3 linked regions of the Homo sapiens genome follow. The protein of the gene in region 2 purifies or fractionates together with the protein of the main gene of each other region. This does not show direct contact. Each region holds a gene or a part of one and is shown on either strand. Other genes may lie near its edges. The genes, in order: KIFBP, TPTE2 and TEDC1.

What was found.
Region 1: the proteins of TPTE2 (region 2) and KIFBP purify together in Homo sapiens (affinity purification with mass spectrometry; 2 studies listed by BioGRID and IntAct, with this or other methods). This does not show direct contact.
Region 3: the proteins of TPTE2 (region 2) and TEDC1 purify together in Homo sapiens (affinity purification with mass spectrometry; 2 studies listed by BioGRID and IntAct, with this or other methods). This does not show direct contact.

What each region holds. Positions count from the first base shown.
Region 1 is NC_000010.11:69,012,803-69,016,402, reverse strand, and holds part of KIFBP (KIF-binding protein), read right to left. Parts: intron 863-3,600; coding exon 1-862. UniProt on the Homo sapiens protein: Activator of KIF1B plus-end-directed microtubule motor activity. Required for organization of axonal microtubules, and axonal outgrowth and maintenance during peripheral and central nervous system development.
Region 2 is NC_000013.11:19,422,377-19,425,532, reverse strand, and holds the end of TPTE2 (phosphatidylinositol 3,4,5-trisphosphate 3-phosphatase TPTE2), read left to right. Parts: intron 1-515; coding exon 516-586; intron 587-2,368; coding exon 2,369-2,471; 3' UTR 2,472-2,656; downstream 2,657-3,156. UniProt on the Homo sapiens protein: Acts as a lipid phosphatase, removing the phosphate in the D3 position of the inositol ring from phosphatidylinositol 3,4,5-trisphosphate.
Region 3 is NC_000014.9:105,489,349-105,493,294, reverse strand, and holds the start of TEDC1 (tubulin epsilon and delta complex protein 1), read right to left. Parts: upstream 2,050-3,946; 5' UTR 1,920-2,049; coding exon 1,773-1,919; intron 1,674-1,772; coding exon 1,595-1,673; intron 1,189-1,594; coding exon 986-1,188; intron 717-985; coding exon 561-716; intron 1-560. UniProt on the Homo sapiens protein: Acts as a positive regulator of ciliary hedgehog signaling. Required for centriole stability. May play a role in counteracting perturbation of actin filaments, such as after treatment with the actin depolymerizing microbial metabolite Chivosazole F.

The sequences.
Region 1 (3,600 bases), on a different chromosome or scaffold from region 2:
TCTTGGTTCTGAATCTCTCCATTTTTGTTGGGAGAAGACTAACCATCTCTTTACTAAGTTCTAGCTCAACTTCTATTTCCTGGGCGGCCTCAGGATGCTTTTCACAGTAATCAACAATAAATTTGTAATGTTCCAATGATGTTGCCAAATTTTCCAGCTCTTTCTTGGGATCTGCAGTAATGATTTTGCCATAGAGACGGGCAACTCGAAACTTAGCTAACATGGCAGGGCGAAGAACATCTTCCCCTATATGCTCAGGGAATACTTTATTTGGGTCTCTCAGGGAGTCTAAGAAGAGCTGGTAGTACTTCAGTGCTGACTTATTAAGATTATTTATTTTTTTTACAATGTGTGAATCAGGATCCCTTAGCCTGTCAGCAATGGCAACCTTCAAATCCATCATATCATAGTAAGCATGTGCAATTTCAAACTGGATCTGTCTGTTGACCAACAGATAATACTGTGGATTCAGGTCTACAGTTAGGGGCTCTAGCATGGCTATTCTGCGTTTATGCATCTTGCACCGTCTCTCCATGTCAGTTTCAAAGAATGCAAGCACCTTAAACAGAGCACTGTGGTCTTGGACAACTTCAATATGGTCAGTGACATAACCATCAATCTGAAAGAACTCTTTTGCCTCAAAGACATAGTGCTGACCCAATAAGAAAAGTTCTCTGGCTTCTTCAAAATCTAAAGGTCTCAAGTAGCTCACTTTCTCTTCTACTGCAGAGATGGCATCACACAGTTCACCGGTTCCAAACTGCACAGCTTTTTTCCGAATGCTTTCCTCCTCATCTAGTTCTTTTTTCCTTAAAGCTCTAAGTTCAGACTGTTTATCAAGATCAAGCTCTCCTATGTTGTCCTGAAGGAAAAAAAAATAAATTATGGTTAAGTAGGACACTCACCTCCTGCTGTTAAATAATATTAAAGCAAACTTCAGAGTTTTTTAGAAGAGAAGTCTCTTACTTTCCAGCCTGGTTTAGAAGGGTATCATAATCTTAAACACCTTTGAAAACTTCTTTCTTTCTTCCGATTATATTAAAAACTCAAGAAATGTGGAAAAAAAAGTATTTAAATAGACAAGCTGCTTACATATCATTTATTCTGAGGAACTGAAATTTATTTACAGTTACTCCTTCCAATAAGATAAATGCTACATGTAAAAGTACTTTGAGAATTGTGAAACATTATATATATGTGATACATTACTCCCAGCACTTTGGGAGGCCAAGGCGGACAGATCACGAGGTCAGGAGTTGAAGACCAGCCTGGCCAACATAGTGAAACTCTGTCTCTACTAAAAATATAAAAAATTAGCCAGGCATGGTGGCAGGCGCCTGTAATCCCAGCTACTTGAGAGGCTGAGGCAGGAGAATCGCTTGAACCCAGGAGGCAGAGGTTGCAGTAAGTGGAGATTGCGCCACAGCACTCCAGCCTGGGTGACAGTGCAAGACTCCATCTCAAGAAACAAACAAACAAACAAAAAGACTGTAATCTACATCATAAAAATGTTTCACAAGGATGCCATTAAGATTAATGCTACCATGTTTATGCTATTAGTTATTTAGTGAAATATATCAGACAGAAATGCTCTAGGTCTCTTAAAGACATCAAAGTGAACAAAGAGTTAAATCTACCTTCCTAGTTAAAGTTTTATCTCCTCTACCTCTTGGGGGTGGGGGGGGGCAAATAAAAAAAGAAAGAATAACTAAGGTGGTTAAGAAATAGGGTAAGCTCTTCTTGGCCAATAAAAATAAATAATAGATCCCAAGGCCTTTTCTTCTTTTCACTTGACACTGTCTCACCAATGATCTTTCCACAAACCCTTCAAGGTTTCCAAATGCTCAGAAGATGAAGACAACAATGCTTCAAAGCCTTGATTGCTCCAGCCCCTTTCTAACTCTAACTTTAGCTTATATCACACTCCCTCTCCCTCAGCTCCAACCTCACAGCCTTTGCTCCATCCCTTCTGATATCATCCTCCCTTACGCCACAGAACTTCTAAACATGTTGCTTCAGCTCCTTGACATGGTGTGCCTTCTTTTCTTCAGTCTAGGTAACTCCTACTTACTCATCCCCAGAGCTTGCTTGTTATTTCCTCCTATTGTGCCTTCTCATATCATGTGTCTCTCCTTTGTGGAACTTAGCAAAATTGTACTTTTACATGAAGTTAAAGGCTAGGTTCATTTTTGTTCATCATAGTATCCTTGGCCAATGACTAGCACAGGGTTGGCATAAATAAATACTTAATTGAATAAATTTATGTATGTCTTAAAGCTTGAACTGAAGAAGGTCTTTCAGATAAATATACAGATGATAAAGGATGAAGTTAAGGTTAAAAAATAAAGTCAGGGGTGAGCGCAGTGGCTCACACCTGTAATCCCAGCACTTTGGGAGGCCGACGTGGGTGGATCGCTTGAGCTCAAGAGTTCAAGACCAGCCTGGGCAACATGGTAAAACATCGTCTCTAACAAAAATACAAAGAATTAGCCGGGCACAGTGGCACACACCTGTTGTCCCAGTTACTTGGCAGGCTGATGTAGGAGGACTGCTTGAGCCAGGGAGGTGGAGGATGCAGTGAGTGGAGATCATGCCACTGCACTCCAGCCCGGGTGACAGAAACCCCATCTCAAAAAACAAAACTGGGTTTAAGGAAAATCTGAGTAGTTTAGTAGCATGGCAAATATGTGAGTTTAAACTAACCAAGTGATGAAGTTTTAAGTTCCCAGACTAGAAACATCAACTAAATGAAAGGTAAGGGTCAAATCATAGTGCGATTTGCTTGACACAATTACTTCAAATGTAGATCATAAGTCTCTAAATCTTGTATACTTCCTTCCTTCTTGGGCTGCTTGTTTACTTACATGTTCTCTCTAGGATGCTTATTTAAATTAGCCTACTGTTTTGCTCCAATAGTCCCTGCAACCCTCCTTTTCCAGCTTTCTTTACCTGACCAGAATAAACTTGACAGCTCTTCCTGGCTCCAAATTCTCTACACATAAAGCCCCACAGTTATTCTCCCTACTTCCTGTCTTTCCTTAATATGCCTCCTCTTTACCCTCTGACCTCTAAAATTATCTTCATCTTTTCAAGACCTATGCTTCTGATGTGTTGAGGTTTGTTTGTTTGGTTTTCTTTCGTTTAGTAGTTTCACAAGGTTCTATATTATTTACCACTGATATGGTTTGGATTTGTGTCCCTGGCCAAATCTCACATTAAATTGGAGGAGGGACCTGGTGGGAGGTGACTGGATCACTGGGGGCAGATTTCCTCCTTGCTGTTCTTGTGGTAATGAGTGAGCTCTCTCATGAGATCTGATGGTTTTGAAGTGTGTGGCATTTCCCCCTTTGCCCTCTCTCTCTCTCCTGCTTGCCATGGTAAGACATGCTTGCTTCTCTTTCGCCTTCCGCCATGATTCTAAGTTTCCTGAGGGCTCCTAGTCATGCTTCCTGTTAAGCCTGAGGAACTGTGAGTCAATTAACCTCTTTTCTTCATAAATTACCCAGTCTCAGGTAGTTCTTTTGTTTTGTTACCCAGGCTGGAGTGCAGTGGTGCAGTCTTGGCTCACTGCAACTTCTGCCTCCTGGGCTCAAGTGATTC
Region 2 (3,156 bases):
AAGTGGTCATCAGGAGAAGGTTGTATAAGGCAGATATCAGGATCAGTCACATGGAGAAACTGGGAGGAGGTGAACTGGAAACTGCTGAGGGTGACTGAACCCCGCTTCTGAGATCAGAAAATACAATTTATAATTAAAAGGGATGCTGAGGCAACAAAAAAATTATAAGAATTCACTACAATGTAGTTGGGTATATATAGGCATAGGTCCTTAGTAGCATCTGTTTGGCACTATCTAAACCAGATTCAAATAGCAGCATTTAAATTAAAGACCTATCATGGGAAAAACACTATTCCTTGAAAATTTTGATAGAAACAGCAAGAGAATGCAATAGCATTTTCTTAAAGCCTCCTCCTTTGTGTCTTGAGTGTATTGTTATAGATTGCAGAGTGCTACCTATTTAATGGTTATAATTGTTTGATAAATATATAAAGGAATAAAGAAAGGAACTTTAATTTCTTTGGAATGATTAGTTCCTGGTGTCAGTTTTACTTTGAAATTTTTTTTCTTTTTAGAATCTTCCTAAATACTATGACAATTGTCCATTTTTCTTCTGGTTCAACACGTCTTTTATTCAAAATAACAGGTATGAATATAATAGAAACCCATAGAAACAGCCTAATCTTCAATGTCTATAAATAAGGTGTAATGGCAAGTCTTTTGCTGGTTGTCATAAACTTAATTTATAGAAAGCAAAAAATCCCTGAGCCACCATTTTTCCTTGCCTTACTCCTCTTACTTTGGTTATTTTAAAAATACATTTGTTCTTGAGACCCACTGTTGCAGTATCCTCAGGGTCCATGCCATAGGACTGTGTTATGAGTTCAAAAGTATTATCATCAGATCTTAAGTTTGGTAGTAAATTCCTCCCAGAGAAGTTCAATATGAGTCTGCTCAGCACCTTCAGTATGTCAGGTCCCTGTCAGTAGGTGCTGATTTACCAATGACGAACCACCATCAACTTTTGTGCTAAAGTAAGGCAGGACCTAGGGAGGCTTCAGCTAGCTGAAAAGCTGACGGACACACTTATATCTGGGAGAAGTTACAAGACACAGTATTAAGGAATACAGCTAAGAAATATCATTAAGTAATAGTCTATTTAAATAGCCATTCAAATGTGGCTTTCTAATAACTGAATTGGGAAAACTTTCTGAAAAATTACTAATTGGGTTTGGAGATTATTGTTCCAAAAAAACCTGCCATATTTGGAACCACATTTCTCAGTCTAGAAGTTCTCCACTATAAGTAGCATTTGTTTTGTGATGGTGAAAAATTGAGATTTTTTTTTGTATCAACCATACTCTTCAATACAAAAGGACAAAATATTTTTTAAATGATTTAGGTCAGAGTTGAAGAAGTGGCTATGATTATATGTGGCATGAATTGATAGTTATTGTTACATCCAGTCCTAATCTTTTCTTCAAACGTGAACTGGATCGAATAACTCCTTAAGTCCAGCAAGGCAACAGGAAATTAAACCTCTGGTCTACACACTTGCAATGCAAAACATTTAATGGATTTTGATAGAGTCAACTTTGGATTTGATGGAAATTTTTTACAAGTATTTTTTTTAGATGCATACAAACAATAAGCTTTTTCTTCTAACATGAGCAAAGTCCCTCAAAAAGTGAGACCTGGGTGGAGCTTCATTTGATGCTGCTCCTCAAAAGTGGTTCTTGCTAAAGGATACCGTTTTTTTCCTTTAAAACACTGCGTTCATTTTGGAGAAGTGATAAGCTAGATCACTTTTATTCTTACTTTTATATAAATTTCTAAAGATTTCTGTAACATTTAAATTTACATACTACTTGGTAAAGCTGTTTTTGTTAGTTATGAGATTGTTGTTTAGCCAAAAATGCTAACTTCTATCATTTAGAACACCAGGCATAAATGGGTTAACCAATTTATGCCTAGTGTTCCATTATTGGAACGCTAAGCATATGGGAGTTATAGCCTACTGCTCAAGGTCATTTCCAAGGTCTGATTGTAAAAATTCAAAAAATTGCAACTTCACACATAAATTAAAAGAGATATAGTATTTTATTCCTGGGTTTTCATTCATGTCTATCCTGACTGATTTCTGTCACAGAGAGAAATTTAGATATTTTATTAAACTTGGATGTCATTAATTCCATATAAAGCAATGCTAAGAGAGTCAGCATGTGTTACTGATGTGTTGCTGAAGATTAAAGTATTTTTAAGTCTCACTAAAAAGGTGGAAGGAGCCAACTGAAATGCAAAAAAGGGTCTGGGGTTCTATTCATGGTGAGGTTTTTTTTTGTTTCTTCCAGCTCTAACGTGGGTACCCAACTGCGTGGCTTTTTGGTGAGCCCCAATATAAAATGTAATTTTTTTTTTCTATTCTTAGGCTTTGTCTACCAAGAAATGAATTGGATAATCCACATAAACAAAAAGCATGGAAAATTTATCCACCAGAATTTGCTGTGGAGATACTTTTTGGCGAGAAATGACTTCCAATGATGTTGTAGCTGGATCCGACTAAGTATAGCTCCCCCTTCCCCTTCTGGGAAAGAATTATGTTCTTTCCAACCCCTGCCACATGTTCATGTGTCCTAAGTCTTCCTTGATGATGCATCTATATTTATATATGTTTATATATGTTCTTCATAAATCTATTAAATATATATAGATAAAATGTCAGTGTTTTTCTTCTTTTTTGAAGGCACATACTTCACACACTTTCCATCTTGTATTTACATAAATTTGGAACACAGTATGCAGGAACATCAGGCATCATTTTGAAGAACTTTGAAATAGAACTTTCATGGCAAAAACTTGAGATATTTAAAAATTGTGATTCCCCAACACCCACTTACTTACATATTTTTGGTCAAGTATTTATTCCCTGCTTTGGTTCACATTTGTAATTTCAGATTTATTAGAAAGCTAATTTATATATTTTTCTTCCCCTTCATTTACAAACAGTCTGTTAACAGATTGGCAACCAAGACTAAGTTTTAAATCCAGAAGAGAGAAATGTTTCACATAAGCAGTTCCCCAACTCCCAACACACACTCTCTTTCATTCCGAGCATTAAATAGGTAGCTTACTTGACAAGCTTCCTTTAATTACACACAGACATGGGGGTTGGGGTAAGAAGACTGTGGTAAATATGAAGATAAGTAATCTTTGGTA
Region 3 (3,946 bases), on a different chromosome or scaffold from region 2:
GTGGGATGGGGGGGTCTCCAAGGAGTCCCGCGCTGGTGGGAGCCCGCCGCTGCCACAGACCCACCTGTCAGCGCTGGCCTCACAGTGGACACACCACTGGGTACCTGTGCCCCTGAGCCAGCCCCTGCCACCTTCAGGACCCCACAGGAGCTGTCCACCCCGCAAGTCAGCCCCCACCAGGATGTGGTGGCAACAGGAGCTGTCTTCCTCCCCCTCCAGTGCCCAGGAGGGAGTGGCTTTCATGGCACAGACCCCATCCCACTGTTCACAGAGCTGGAAGTCCACTGGTAACTTTTGGGAACAGAAAGGCAAATTCTGTGAGCTCTCTGACACCCGTTTCTGCCCACCATTGCCCACCCCACTGGGCTCCCTGCCCAGCCCTGCCCCCTACAAGGACCACCGGGAACCACGGGCTCAGGCTTTGGGTAAGCCAGGGCAGGAAGGCCCACATCCAGCCAAAAGCCTGTGCCAGGCCTCACGGGACGGGCTGCAGGGACTGGCAGCTGGCGGCCTGCAGCACGGGACACAGCCCCTGAGTGGAAGCCCTGTGCCAGCTCTACCTTGCTCAGGAGGGCGCACTGCTCCTGCTGACTGGACACCAGCTGGCGCCACCGGAACCGCAGCTTTCCCATCAGCCACTGCACATGGCGGACATCCACAGGACCCTCTGCTTCCATGTGGGGTGCAGGTGGGCCAGGGCTGGCCAGGGCCTCACACTGGAGAGGGGCAAGGGTCAGGCCCTGCTCCCACCCCACCCTGCCCCCCAGAAAAGGCCAGGATGGAGACGGTAGTGGAGGCACAGCCAAAAACAACGGGTGCTCCCTGCACAGGGAGCCTCCGTGCTTTCAGCTGGGCAGCTGGGTAACCCTTCATGGGACTGCCCTGAGGAGCAAAGCAGACAGAGGGGGCTGACCCAGGCCTGCCCTTGCTCTGGCCCCAGGAGTTGAGACCAGGGCTGGCTCAGCTCACCCTCACCCACACGCACCTGGCACACAGTCATCTCGTCACCCAGAGGCACTCGGGCCTGGGCCAGCATCTGCTCGGGCACAGGTCCTCGGGCCAAGAGCCAGGACAGAGCCAGCAGCAGCTCCCGACTGCCCTGCGAGCCATCCTCAGGTAGTTGTGCCAGTGCCAGCCTCGGGTAGCCCTGGGAGCATAGTGCTGACTTCACCAAGCGGGCTTGGACCTCTAGGACAGAAGACCACCACCTTAGGGGGACCACCCACCTGGAGGTGACACCACCTGGATCCCTCCAGAGACCCCCACAGGTCACTTGAGCAGAAGCTCAAGGCCTAGTTCAGAAGAGATGATAGTGGGAGAGCTAGAACTCAGACCAGGATGAGGAGACCAGGGGCCAACAGGGACGTCCCCAGGGCTTTGTAGGAGCAGAAGCCAGTGCTACCCAAGGGGGTGGAGCTAGGGCCCATCAGGGGGCGTGGCTTACCGGGGAAGGCGGAGTTTTGAGGAGCAAGCGGGGTCAGTGTTGGGTGGGGGCTAGAGCCTGCCGGGGCGGGGCTTACTGGGGAAGGCGGGGCTTTACAGGAGTAGGCGGGGCCAGTGCTACCGGGTGGGCGGGGCCAGGAGCGGGGCTTACCCAGGGCGAGCGATGCCAAGGCGTTGCCCGCAGGGAGTGGCGAGAGCACACGGAAGAGGAGCTGCCAGAGCGCGGAGGTCTGCGGAAAATAAAAAGCGGGCGGTCAGCGGAGCCGGCCCAACTCCCTGCGAGGGCCCGGGACCCCACCCGGCCCGCCTGCCCTCCGCGAGAGCGTCACCGCCTCCGGACGGTCGAACTTGGCGCGGCGGAAGATCTCGGGGCTGGGTCCCGAGGGCAGCGACCGACTCAACGCGGCGATGGCCTCAGGCAGGGCCCCGGCCCGGGCCCCAGCCGCGGGGTCCACCCGCTGCCGCCGCCTCCCCATGCAGCCAGCACCAGCCTCTTTCGGATCGCCCGCCTCCGCCGCGGCCCGGGGCCTGCGTCCAATCACCGCACGGGCCGGGTTTAGTGCGGCGGCTGGGACCTGCGCCCAGTTACCGCTCCGGCTGGAACCTGAGCCCAATCATGGCACGGGCCGGGTCCAGCGCCCAATCACCGCGCCGGCTGGGACCTGCGCCCAATCACCGCGCTGGCCGAGACCTGTACCCAATCACCGCGCTCCCGAGACCTGTACCCAATCACCGCGCTGGCCGGACATGCATCCAATCACTGCGTCGGCAGGGTCCCGCCTTCGTGTCCAAGCCCAATGAACGGTTCCCCTGGAGTTTGAGTGTAGTCTATTCTGTCTCGTGCGGACCCACTTCCGGGCTCCTGGCAGGGCTGTTGATATGGAGAACACCGCAGAGTCCGCCCTTGCAGGCTCAATCGTCACGACACCCGACACCCCGCCTCGCTCAGACCCCACCCATCAGCGCCTCACGCCCCTTGGCAACCTAGCAACCGCCGGGCGGGAGCGCGCAGACTCCGGAAGGCGCCCTGTGGGGCCGCTTACGCAGTCGGAGCGGACGAGCCTCGCCCCATCGCGCCGCCTTCCAGGCTGGGCCGCCAGGAGGCGCCCAGAGCCCGCCGCGCCGCACAGCGCAGACCCCAGCGCGGCCGGCCCCTGGCCCCTGGCGCGAAGTCCCGGGCAGCTCCCCCGCCCCGAACGCGCAGCCGGAGCCCGCGGCAGCCTCCTCAGGCGCTCCCGATCCTCGCCCGCCCGCGGCAGCGCTTCCCTCTGCCGCCGCCACGGAGCAGCCCCGGAGGAAGCCGGCGCATGGAAGCAGCTGCTGCCCGGGCGCCGCTGAGCCGGGCCCGCCTGCACGGGCGGCCCCGAAAGACGCGGGCCGGGAGGAACGTGGGGCTGTCTGCGGGGATGGAAGGTCGGGCTGGCTTCTGGCCAGCGGCGCCTCCGGGCATTCGTGAAGACCCCGGGCAGCGTGTCACCGGGGCTGTTCCCGCGATGCCCCTGCACCTCCCGGGGCTGCGAGGACGGCGGGAGAGGGAAACTCAGTCCTCCCTGGACCCCCAGCCCTGGCTGGACACGCCCACGAGAGGCGCAGCCCGAGGGGTCCCGGCCCCACCTTTCTTCTCGGCCTCCTTCGCCCCCGACCTCCTCTTCCAGGCGGCCCTCCCGGCCCCGCCTCGGGGCCCCCCCCCCAGCAAGCCCCTCCTCTCCCTCCCCGCACGCCCTCCGTCCTTCCCCGCCCGCAGCCTCCTTCCCTCCGGCGCATCGCGATCTCCTTCACGGCGCCAGTAGGAGGACTGCGCTCCTCACCCCGCCCACGCGGGTTTCTTGAAGCTAAGGGGCCTCCTCCTCGGAGCGCCTACTGCACCTGCCGAGCTACAGGGCGGCGGGAGCCAGGGGGATGGGAGCAGGAGGTGGGGAACCGCGGCGCCACAGAACTTGGCAGGAGGCGTGGGGGAGATGGCGGAGCAGCTCTGCGGCCTTGTTCAGCGCTCTCCCAACCCCCGAGCTTGCGGATTTTTCTCTGCACCAGGTGTCGCTGTCTCAAAGATCTCAGTTCCCTCAGCTCCACCCACCACCGTCCAGCCAGAAACCAGCCTCACCTCAGCACCCCCTGCCCCCATCCCATCAAAAGTGCTGTGGCTCCCAGCTCTTGGAATTCCAGGAATCCCCCAATCACCCCCACACACCCCACCCTGCGGGCCACCCTAGACTGCCCCCACAGCACCTGTCGAGCTGAGCCTGCAGCACACCCACCACAGCCCTAAGGCAGGGCCAGACCCCTGGGCTCTTTTAAACCAGTGGGTGTCCGGAGGGGTGGCCTTCTGCCAAGGCCGGTATCTAAGTAGCCAGTGTGGGGAAGAGGGTCTCTGAAGGTGGCCAGTCAGCAGCGGCTGGCTGAGTTGACAAGGGAGTTTCCAGAAGGCCCCCCAGCCCCTGTGCACGGCCGGTACTCAAGTTCCCCACTGGACGCCGGGCCACTGGGTAAGTCCCTGGGCACAGGG